Linked DNA regions of Homo sapiens: all the other regions are linked to region 3. The links come from fine-mapping of genetic effects on gene expression. A gene starts in region 3. Each other region holds a variant in brackets. All regions are shown on one strand. Distances are from middle to middle. Region 1 overlaps WARS1 (tryptophanyl-tRNA synthetase 1). Region 2 holds the start of WARS1 (tryptophanyl-tRNA synthetase 1). Region 3 holds the start of SLC25A29 (solute carrier family 25 member 29).

The links. PIP is the estimated chance that this variant, and not a neighbour inherited with it, causes the effect.
Region 1: its variant is fine-mapped to the expression of SLC25A29 in whole blood (INTERVAL, PIP 0.92).
Region 2: its variant is fine-mapped to the expression of SLC25A29 in whole blood (TOPMed, PIP above 0.99).

Annotation. Positions count from the first base shown.
Region 1 is chr14:100,331,938-100,334,731 of GRCh38, forward strand. It overlaps WARS1 (tryptophanyl-tRNA synthetase 1), which reads right to left. Exons shown (of 11, transcript NM_004184.4): 11 at 1,853-2,794. Among named protein-coding and RNA genes, the nearest start is that of SLC25A47, 10 kb to the left of the region's middle. RefSeq lists an enhancer at 1,010-1,059. The variant C/G (reference allele first, on the strand shown) is at 1,510.
Region 2 is chr14:100,374,608-100,377,401 of GRCh38, forward strand. WARS1 (tryptophanyl-tRNA synthetase 1) reads right to left here and starts at 740. Exons shown (of 11, transcript NM_004184.4): 1 at 676-740. WDR25 (WD repeat domain 25) reads left to right here and starts at 1,878. Exons shown (of 7, transcript NM_001161476.3): 1 at 1,878-1,888. RefSeq lists enhancers at 692-831, 842-1,201 and silencers at 1,712-1,771, 1,962-2,011. The variant C/G (reference allele first, on the strand shown) is at 1,693.
Region 3 is chr14:100,305,441-100,308,091 of GRCh38, forward strand. SLC25A29 (solute carrier family 25 member 29) reads right to left here and starts at 1,004. Exons shown (of 4, transcript NM_001039355.3): 1 at 759-1,004. The coding sequence starts at 792. It overlaps MIR345 (microRNA 345), which reads left to right and starts at 2,419; the gene lies at 2,419-2,516. RefSeq lists enhancers at 1-506, 1,715-1,784, 1,815-1,984 and silencers at 835-934, 995-1,464, 1,555-1,624.

The DNA.
Region 1 (2,794 bases), 27 kb after region 3:
CCGAGTAGCTGGGACTACGGGTGCCCACCACCACGCCTGGCTAATTTCTTTTTGTATTTTTAGTAGAGATGGGGTTTTACCGTGTTAGCCAGGATGGTCTCGATCTCCTGACCTCGTGATCTGCCCGCCTCAGCCTGGGATTACAGGTGTAAGCCACCGCGTCTGGCTGTCCTCACTGTCTTTACAACCTCTATGGTAATGACCAGAGAGTCCTGGGCCTCAAGGCCCAGCCAGTGTGACCCTGGGGAGGGCACATCTGCTGGTGCTGCAGGCGGGCACTGGGGGCCAGAGGCAGGCCTGTTGCTTGCCAAGTGCCGTCCTGGAGCAACGAGCTGTTCCACAGCCACCCGTGTGCTCAGCCACCCTCCTTCCTGTCCCTGCTTCCCCACCCAGTGCTGTTTTGTGTGCTTCTCAGGCACCATCTCCTTTCAGGCAGGCTCAGCTGGTCTCTCCTCCAGGCTGGGGGCCACGGGACAGAGAGACTGAGCTGGGTTGGCCCCACATCTGTCTGACAAGTGGACATTACCAGCCAGAGCAGGAGTGCTCTTCCGGCAGAGCCTCTGGCACCACGGTGGTGCAGGCACCCGGCCTCATGCCTCATCCCCAAACACTCATGGGGCCACTGCAACCTGTCCATCCTAATCCAGACACGCCCATGTCTTTCAGGGAACATTTCTCTCAGAAACCACTGGTTTTTAGCAAAACTGGGGAGGCTTGGGAGACATGTGGCTCCCCTGTGTCCTGACCAGCAGTGGCCTTGGGCAAGTCACCTGAGTATTGGACCCAGGGCACCCCTCCTAAGACCCTAAACAGGAGGCATCACTGCTTTTTACAGGGGAGGAGATGGAGGTCCTGGGAGGTTAAGTGACCTGGCCAGAGTCACACAGCCGGTGAGGGGAGAAGCTGGTTGGTGTTGGCTCACTCCTCCCTGGGGCCAGGGTCTCACCAGGGCCCTGCCAATAGATGCTGTGGCTGGGTGGACAATGACAGCAGCAGCTGTCACTGACTCCATTTGTCACCCCTCATTGCACTTGCGTCACAGGTGCAGTAGAGCGACGAGGAGTCATATTAGTTGCCCAAGGCAACAGGCTAGTGAGCTATGTGGCCTCTGTGGGTGGCTCACCCCCACTGGCCATAGCCAGCCAGGTGAGCAGGGGAGGGCAGGGGTGGGGCCCAGGCCAGCAGGAGTCGAGACCGGGAGAGGAAGCCTACTTGAGGTCATGGTGCACCCGGGTACCTGAGTGGGACTCGAGCCCAGGCCTCCAGCCTCCAGGGTGGGAACCGTAGTTCCCTCATTTGTAAAATGGTCCCTCTGTATGTGTGTGGAAAGCACCAAGAGTCAGGACAGACTCGCTGTATCAGAGTCACCCTATGGCCTTGGACAAGTCATGTTCTCCTCTCCTAAGCCTCAGTTTCCCTACTTGCAAAATAAGGATGGGCCGGTAGAATGAGCCCAGGGCTCCCTTGCAGCTCGGCCTCTGCCCTGGGCCTCATGTGAATGGGGCCCGA[C/G]CTGGCTCCCAGCCTGTGCTCCCCGTCACTACACAGCACCACTAAGCACCCCACGGCCAGCCCCTCCTCTGAAAAGCGAGGACAACCTCTGCTTGCATTCTCCATCAGCTGCTGGAAATGAGAAATGTGGTGTGAGAGGGAGCCCGCACCAGGATGCTGCTAAGGGCTCTCCCAGCACAAGCCCATTCCTGGGAGCTGTGGCACAACACCATGGGGTTCCTGGGACTGTGCGCTTTCATCCCCAAATTTTGACTCCAGCAGACTCAAGGTCATCCACAGAAGGGTGAGGGGAGGGGTCTCTGCTCCCTCCTCAGACCTCCCAGACAGAGCACAATGACAAGAGCAGGAGCCAAGGAAGTTTATTTACTCTACTGGGTGACAGGAGGGCAGAGTGCTCCAGAGGAGACCCAGATACATCAACCAAGGACTTCCCTGAGATTTGGCTTTGCTCTTCCAGGCCTGCACATGCTGCGTGATGAAATGAGGCCTGCCTAGACATCTGTGAGGGCCTCGAGGGCTGCTGCCTCGACTTTCTCCCTAGCTAAGTCCACCCGTCCAGGGACACAGCCAGGGCACTGCTCTGTGCTGACTTCCACTGCAGCCAAGGGTCAAAATGAAGCATCTGCGGAGGCCAGGACTCCTTGGCATCGGACACAGTCAGGGGAAAAGCCACCCTGACTCTGCAGGACAGAGGGTCTAGGGTCATTTGGCAGGAGAACACTGGTGTGCCAAGGGAAGCGAGCATGATTTCTGGAGTGGACTACATGCATGGTCTGGAGTTCAGTAAACTGGAAAGTTTCACCCCCAAGTCTTAATTTAATCAAAATTGCTGAACTCTGTTCAATCTTCATTGTTAAAAGCAGCTTTAAAGCTGGGTGATTTCTTAGTCAAATGTATAACGAAGCTTTTACTTATCAATTTCTTTTTGGGAGGGGGCATGGGCTGAAATACATCTTGTGCTCAATAAACCTCCCCACATCAATATTTCAAAGCACTTTCTAGGTTACAATAATGACATTTCAATTCCATATACGCATACATAGAATATATATTTTTAAACAGAGTGGGTCTTAAGAGTATACTTGGAACCCTCGGAGTCCTCCATGGACAAGAACAGGGTGGCCCATGGACTTCCAGCCAAAGGCTCCACTGTGGGGCTGCTTTGGGGAGAGACTCACAGCTGGACTTCTCTATCCGACCATGCAATGTTAGCCAGCACCAATTACCCACAATGCTTTGCCCATAAGAGATAGAAATAATGGAACTCACAGGAAGAAACAGTATT
Region 2 (2,794 bases), 69 kb after region 3:
TCAGGGCACGCTGATTCTGCAATCTGGGGAAGGGTGGCATCAAGACAGCCAATTCTGGAGCAGGTGAGAAGAGAATGTGGCCCAGGAGTGTTTCTGGATCCCTGGAATACCACCAGGAGGTAGAATACCATCCTTTCTATCTTGGCCCCAGAGTGTAGGTGACAATACCTTTGGACTGGCAAGTTCCCAGAGGACAAGAAAATGACTTCTTTAGAGCAAGGATTTCTTGACACCTTTTGGGACCCATCATGTTCCATTTTTTTTAAACACTAAAAGAAAGATTGCTTTCCCCGCCAAATAACAGCATGAACATTATCTTAAAAGGCAAAGACATTAATTTCTATGAAGCCAGGCACGAGACACTTTTGGGTGTCACAATAAGAATGACAATACGTTCTGATGTTGAGCACAGAAGGAGGGTGCATCAGTGAAAATTATGACAGACAGCATGACGGTGCTGAGAGGCAAGCTACGGATCCAAGCCCGCGACTGCTCAGCCAGGATCTCTGTTCCCTATGGGAGCAGTGAATCACCTGAACTTTGGGTCAATGGAAGAAGTAAAATGCATAACACCCTAATCCTAAGACACAAGTCCTGACCCCCTAAACCAAGGTTTTCAGCACTTTGCTAAAAACACGAACAAGCTCTAAGCCTGGCAAAGATGGCAATACATACCCAGGTTGTGGAAGACACTGCAGAGGTGGCCACTGGTCACGCTGGGCAGTTGAGCTGCTGAGAGTGCCCTGCCCAGCCAGAAATGGTCTTTAATACTCTTCCCCTCTTTCTTTCAGTTTCCCTTCTGAAAAAAGATGCTTTTGTCTTTCGTTCTCCCCACCCTGCATTCAGCTAAGGGTTTCTTATAAATCACCCAGATTCTCAGAAACACTTGAGCTCTTGACCAACCTTCTTGATGAGACTGTCCAATCAGGGGTGGGTTGCCTGGGGGGCCAGGTTGAGACCAATGAAACCCTCTTGAGAATCGAGCCATTAGCTGGTCATTGCATCAGCCACCCCTCACCCCCCGCTGGCCTCCAAATAACCTCCCCACCCTCTTCCCGTTCCCCACCCTCAGCGTCAGTGTGACTGATTTTGTGTAGTCGTGGGCGGTGGAAAGAGAAACTGTAAATTCCCCGCATCTGTTCACCGAGGCGGCACAGTGCAGTGGAAAGATCAGGAGTTCTGGGGTCACAGACGCCTGGGTTTCAATCCCAGCTTGGACTTATTCGAAACCTTGGGCAAGGGTCGCATTACTTTTCTGCTTCCCCTTCGGTTTCCTCATCTGTGGAATGGGCATGGAGAAGCCTGCTAACATTACCGTTGAGGGGACTAAGTGCAACACTACGCAAAGCCTCTGGCACATGGCAGGCGCTAAATAAAAATGGGGGCCTCTCTCCTCGGGAAAAGCGAACAGGCGGAGACGATGAAGGGTGCCAGTGGGAAAGGGAGACGGGGTGGGTCGGCGGCGCTCAGAGGAAAGGGGCGAGGGGTCGGTGGCAGGCTCCGCGCCTCACAGTGCCAGAACGCGGCGGGCAGCAAGCCGGGCTCTAAGGATACTCCCGGGAGGGCCAGGCCACTGGGCGCCGCGCCAGCGTCCCTCCATCACTCCCTCCCTTGTTTCCTCACTCCGCCCCGGCCTTACTCCCCTCGCTTACCCTGCCCAGCCGGGCCAGTCAGCGCTCCCGGCTCAGCAAC[C/G]GGCTGTCTCCTGGGCGTCCGTGGAAACGCCGTCCGGACGGAACAACTTCCGGCCCGACGGCGCCGTCATTGGCTGTTCGCGCGGGGGCGGGGCAGAGGCCGCCACTGATTGGCTGGCGGCCGCGGCGTCGCGTCGGAACGTGACTGGATGGTAGTGTGCTGGCCGGTCTGCCTCCGGGAGAACCGAGCGCTTCCGGTGCGTGTGGTGAGCGGCGGGCCCCGGGCTGGAGGGGCCGGGACTGGGCAGCGCCTAAAGCGCCCCGTGCCGCTTAACGCGGTCTCTCATAGCCGCTCGCCTTCCTTTCACTTCCTGTTCCTTCAGAAAGCGCTGTGCCTTGGACCAACCTTACTTCTTACTATTGACAGCTCAGCTAACTCCTATTCATCCTTCAAAACCCATCTCTGGTCGTATCTTGTTTGTTGCTTTCATCGCTCTGGGGCCTCCGGGGGGATCTGTGTTTTGTGTTTGATTTCCACCCACACCAGACCCAGCATAGGGCTTGACAAAGAGTACGTAATCAGGAAATGTTTGTTGAATGGGAATATCCTATTTCTTTTACTTCCTAGCATCTCCCCCTCCCACCCGTTTGCATTCCAGAAATATTTTTAGACGCTGGGCATTGAATAGTGAACAAAACACAGAAAGTCCTGTCCTCATGGGGCTGACTTGCTGATAGTGACTGTCAGAGTCACTCGCTCCTTCCTTAGACTCTTCTCCAGTGTCCCTGCCTTCCCTTCCATCTTACTGTCTGTTCCTCTTCGTTTAATCCCTCATCTCCTTCCAGAGGGAGCACGGGCACCCTGGTGGTGGGAATCTGGGTGCATGGTGGGTGGTGCCTGGGCAGAGGAGTTGAGAGTGGCCTCGGGACCAGGCTTAGCATTTAGAGAACAGAAATGCCAAATTATTTGCAGTGCACGGTTCCATTAGTTTATAATTAGTCTTTCATATTATATTAGTTCCATTGGAGATGAGCTGGCTGGCTGGCTTTAGAAGTTGTTGTTGTTGTTGTTGTTTTTTGAGACCAAGTCTCGCTCTGTAGCCCAGGCTGGAGTGCAGTGGCGTGATCTCCACTCACCGCAACCTCCGCCTCCCGGGTTCAAG
Region 3 (2,651 bases):
TCAAGGTAAAAGCAGAGAAGCCAGAGGCCCAACAGGGAAGTGCCGTGCCCGACGCCCACGGTCGGGGCATGGGAGAGCCTGGACTGCACGCCCGCCCGGGCCCTCCCGGGGACAACTGCATGGGAGGAACCCCAGAGCCGCGACCGCGCCTCGGAGAAGGTGCCCCACACCGGCTCGCCCGACCCACCCACCACCCCCCTTCCGCCCCCAACAGCTCACAAAACCGCGTAGGAAGGGGCGGCGTTCCAAGGCGTGACTCGGCGCCAGAGTGGTTCAGTGCCCTCCAAGGCCAGCCGAGTAGGGGGTCGGCTCCGTAGCCCCAACCCCGCTGGATGGCTGCGCGGGACGGGGTGGAGTCAGTCCCGAAATATACGGCCGGGGGAGGGGACCCTGCTCCCAGTGCGCAACGGATGGGGATGGGGGAGGGGAAGGAGATGAGCCCGGGACCTCGGCGCGGGGGGCAGTGGGGCATCCTCCCGGCAGTCCTGGCCTCCGCTCAGCCACGGTGCTGCCCCGGCGCCCCAGACCTCCCGTCCGAGCGTGCCCAGAGAGAATAAAGACACCTGCCCTCGCGGACAGCCCGGGCCTGAAGTCAATTTACGCCCACGAGACCCGCCCGAGGCAAGAGAACTGTGGTCCCCATTCACAGACGCGGCGACCCCCGCCAGCGGGAAGCCGCGAGGCCAGGGCGTGCTGGTGGGCCGACCTCCCTCCCCGGACGCCTCGCCCCGGCCCGGCCCGGCCCGCCGCCTCCTTACCCCCCGCGCATCCAGCCAAGAAGTCCAGCGCCATGGCCGGGTCCCCGGCGAGGCCGCCTTTCCTCCTCGTCCTCCCCCTGAGGCCCCTCGCCGGGCTGGGCGCCGTCGGGGTCCCCGAGCGCGCGGTGCCGGGGCTGGGCCTGGCCGCTCCTCCTGGCGCGGAGCCCGGGCAGGCGCGGTCAGGGATGGTGGGGATGGCGGCAGCAGCTAGACCCGCGCTGGTCCCTCGGCGGCAGCTGACTCGCTGGATCCCCTCCGGCCCGCGGTCCCTCACCTCGGGCCGCGCGCCCCGCCCCTCGTGCCTGCCGGCAGGGCCCGGGTGGGGGCGCCGAGTGAGGCCAATGGGCGGGCACGGCGCGGACAACACCCCGGGCACTGCGCTTCGCCGCCGCGCCTCATTGGCCGGGCGTGCGCGGGAGGCGGGGCGCGGGGGACGTGGTGGGCGCGCGGGCGGGGCGCGGGGACGCCTCAGACAAAGAGCGCGCTGGGTGCGCAGGTCCGGCGGGAGGGGACGCGCGGGGTGGCGGGGTTGAGCCGAGGACTCCCCCACCCGGAGTACGCGGGGTGGCTCTGGTCTGGACCGGGTCGGGAACCGGACCCTGGGTTCGGAGTCCGGCGCCGCCGCAGAACCTCAGCGCCCTAGTCTGTGCCGTGCGGACCCTGCCGCGAAAACGGCCGTGGAGCGCCGGGACGTTCCGAGGCCCGCAGACTGGGACGCCGCTAGTTGCGAAACTCCGCGAGCGGGAATCGCCCGTGGGGAGCCTCTGCCCGTCCCGCCTGCGCGCCCGCGGCGGCGGTGGCCTCCGGGGCTTCCGGACTCCTGGCCGAACCCGCCGGGTTCTGGGGGTCGGACGCGCACGGGCGCTTCCTGCGGAGCCTGAGGCTGGGATTTGGGCGGAGAGCAGGGAACCTTAAAAGGGAAAGGGGCCATGGGCAAAGGGCGCAGCAGGCCTTCGGGCCACAGCTCCTTCCCGAGGACTGCGGGTCGCGGGAGCCGCGGAAGGTTGTGGAGAGAGGGAGGTTCCTGGACTGGGCTGCAGAGTGGAGTCGGGCCAGATCGCAGCGCCTCCGTCAGCGGCGGCCGGACGGGGCGAGACCGGAGGGGCTCGGTAGGGGCCGCGCTCAGGCGCTGAAGTCGGAGGGTGCTTGGCTCTGGGTCACCAGGGTATCCATGGGCTGCGGGGATGAATGAGAGCCGAGTCTGACTCGGCCCCCCAGGAGTCCCTGACATTCGCAGTGGCAAGGGACTGCCCTGGTCCCTGTGGAGCGTCCCATTCGGTGACTTCCCACCAGCCCTTCCCCAGCGCCTCTGGAGGTCCAGACTGTCAGGTTGGAGCCTGGGAGCAGGGACGGGCCAGGCGCTTTCTCTTCGCTGTAGGAGTCAGATCAGCCTTAGGCCGGGCCCAGCTTCCTTCTTTAGGGCCTGCAGGCAGGCAAGGCCACACCGTGTGCCACGTTTCCAGGTTTAGGGTCACATGGTTCTTTTATCCAAATTCCAGTGGGTACCTACCTCCTGGAGGTGCAGGTCGAAAGGTTCTGTGTATTTGGTACTAGGACACACAGGTAGGTGTTGTCAGTAGTGCAGCCTGGTGCTAGGGGCAGGGGTCCCCAGTGCTCATGTTAGTTTCCTTTTAGAGTCTAAGTAGAATGTTAAGCAGAGACCCAAACCCTAGGTCTGCTGACTCCTAGTCCAGGGCTCGTGATGGCTGGTGGGCCCTGAACGAGGGGTCTGGAGGCCTGGGTTTGAATATCGACAGCCTCTCTGACCCACTTGGTTGCCTCAGGGAGGCAGGTGTGCGGATGGGGGAGAGTGGCCCATGGGCCAGAAAAGCAGTGGTATGGGGGCCCCAAGAGAAGCCCAGACCCAAAAGGGCAGGAGCTGGCTGTGGGGCT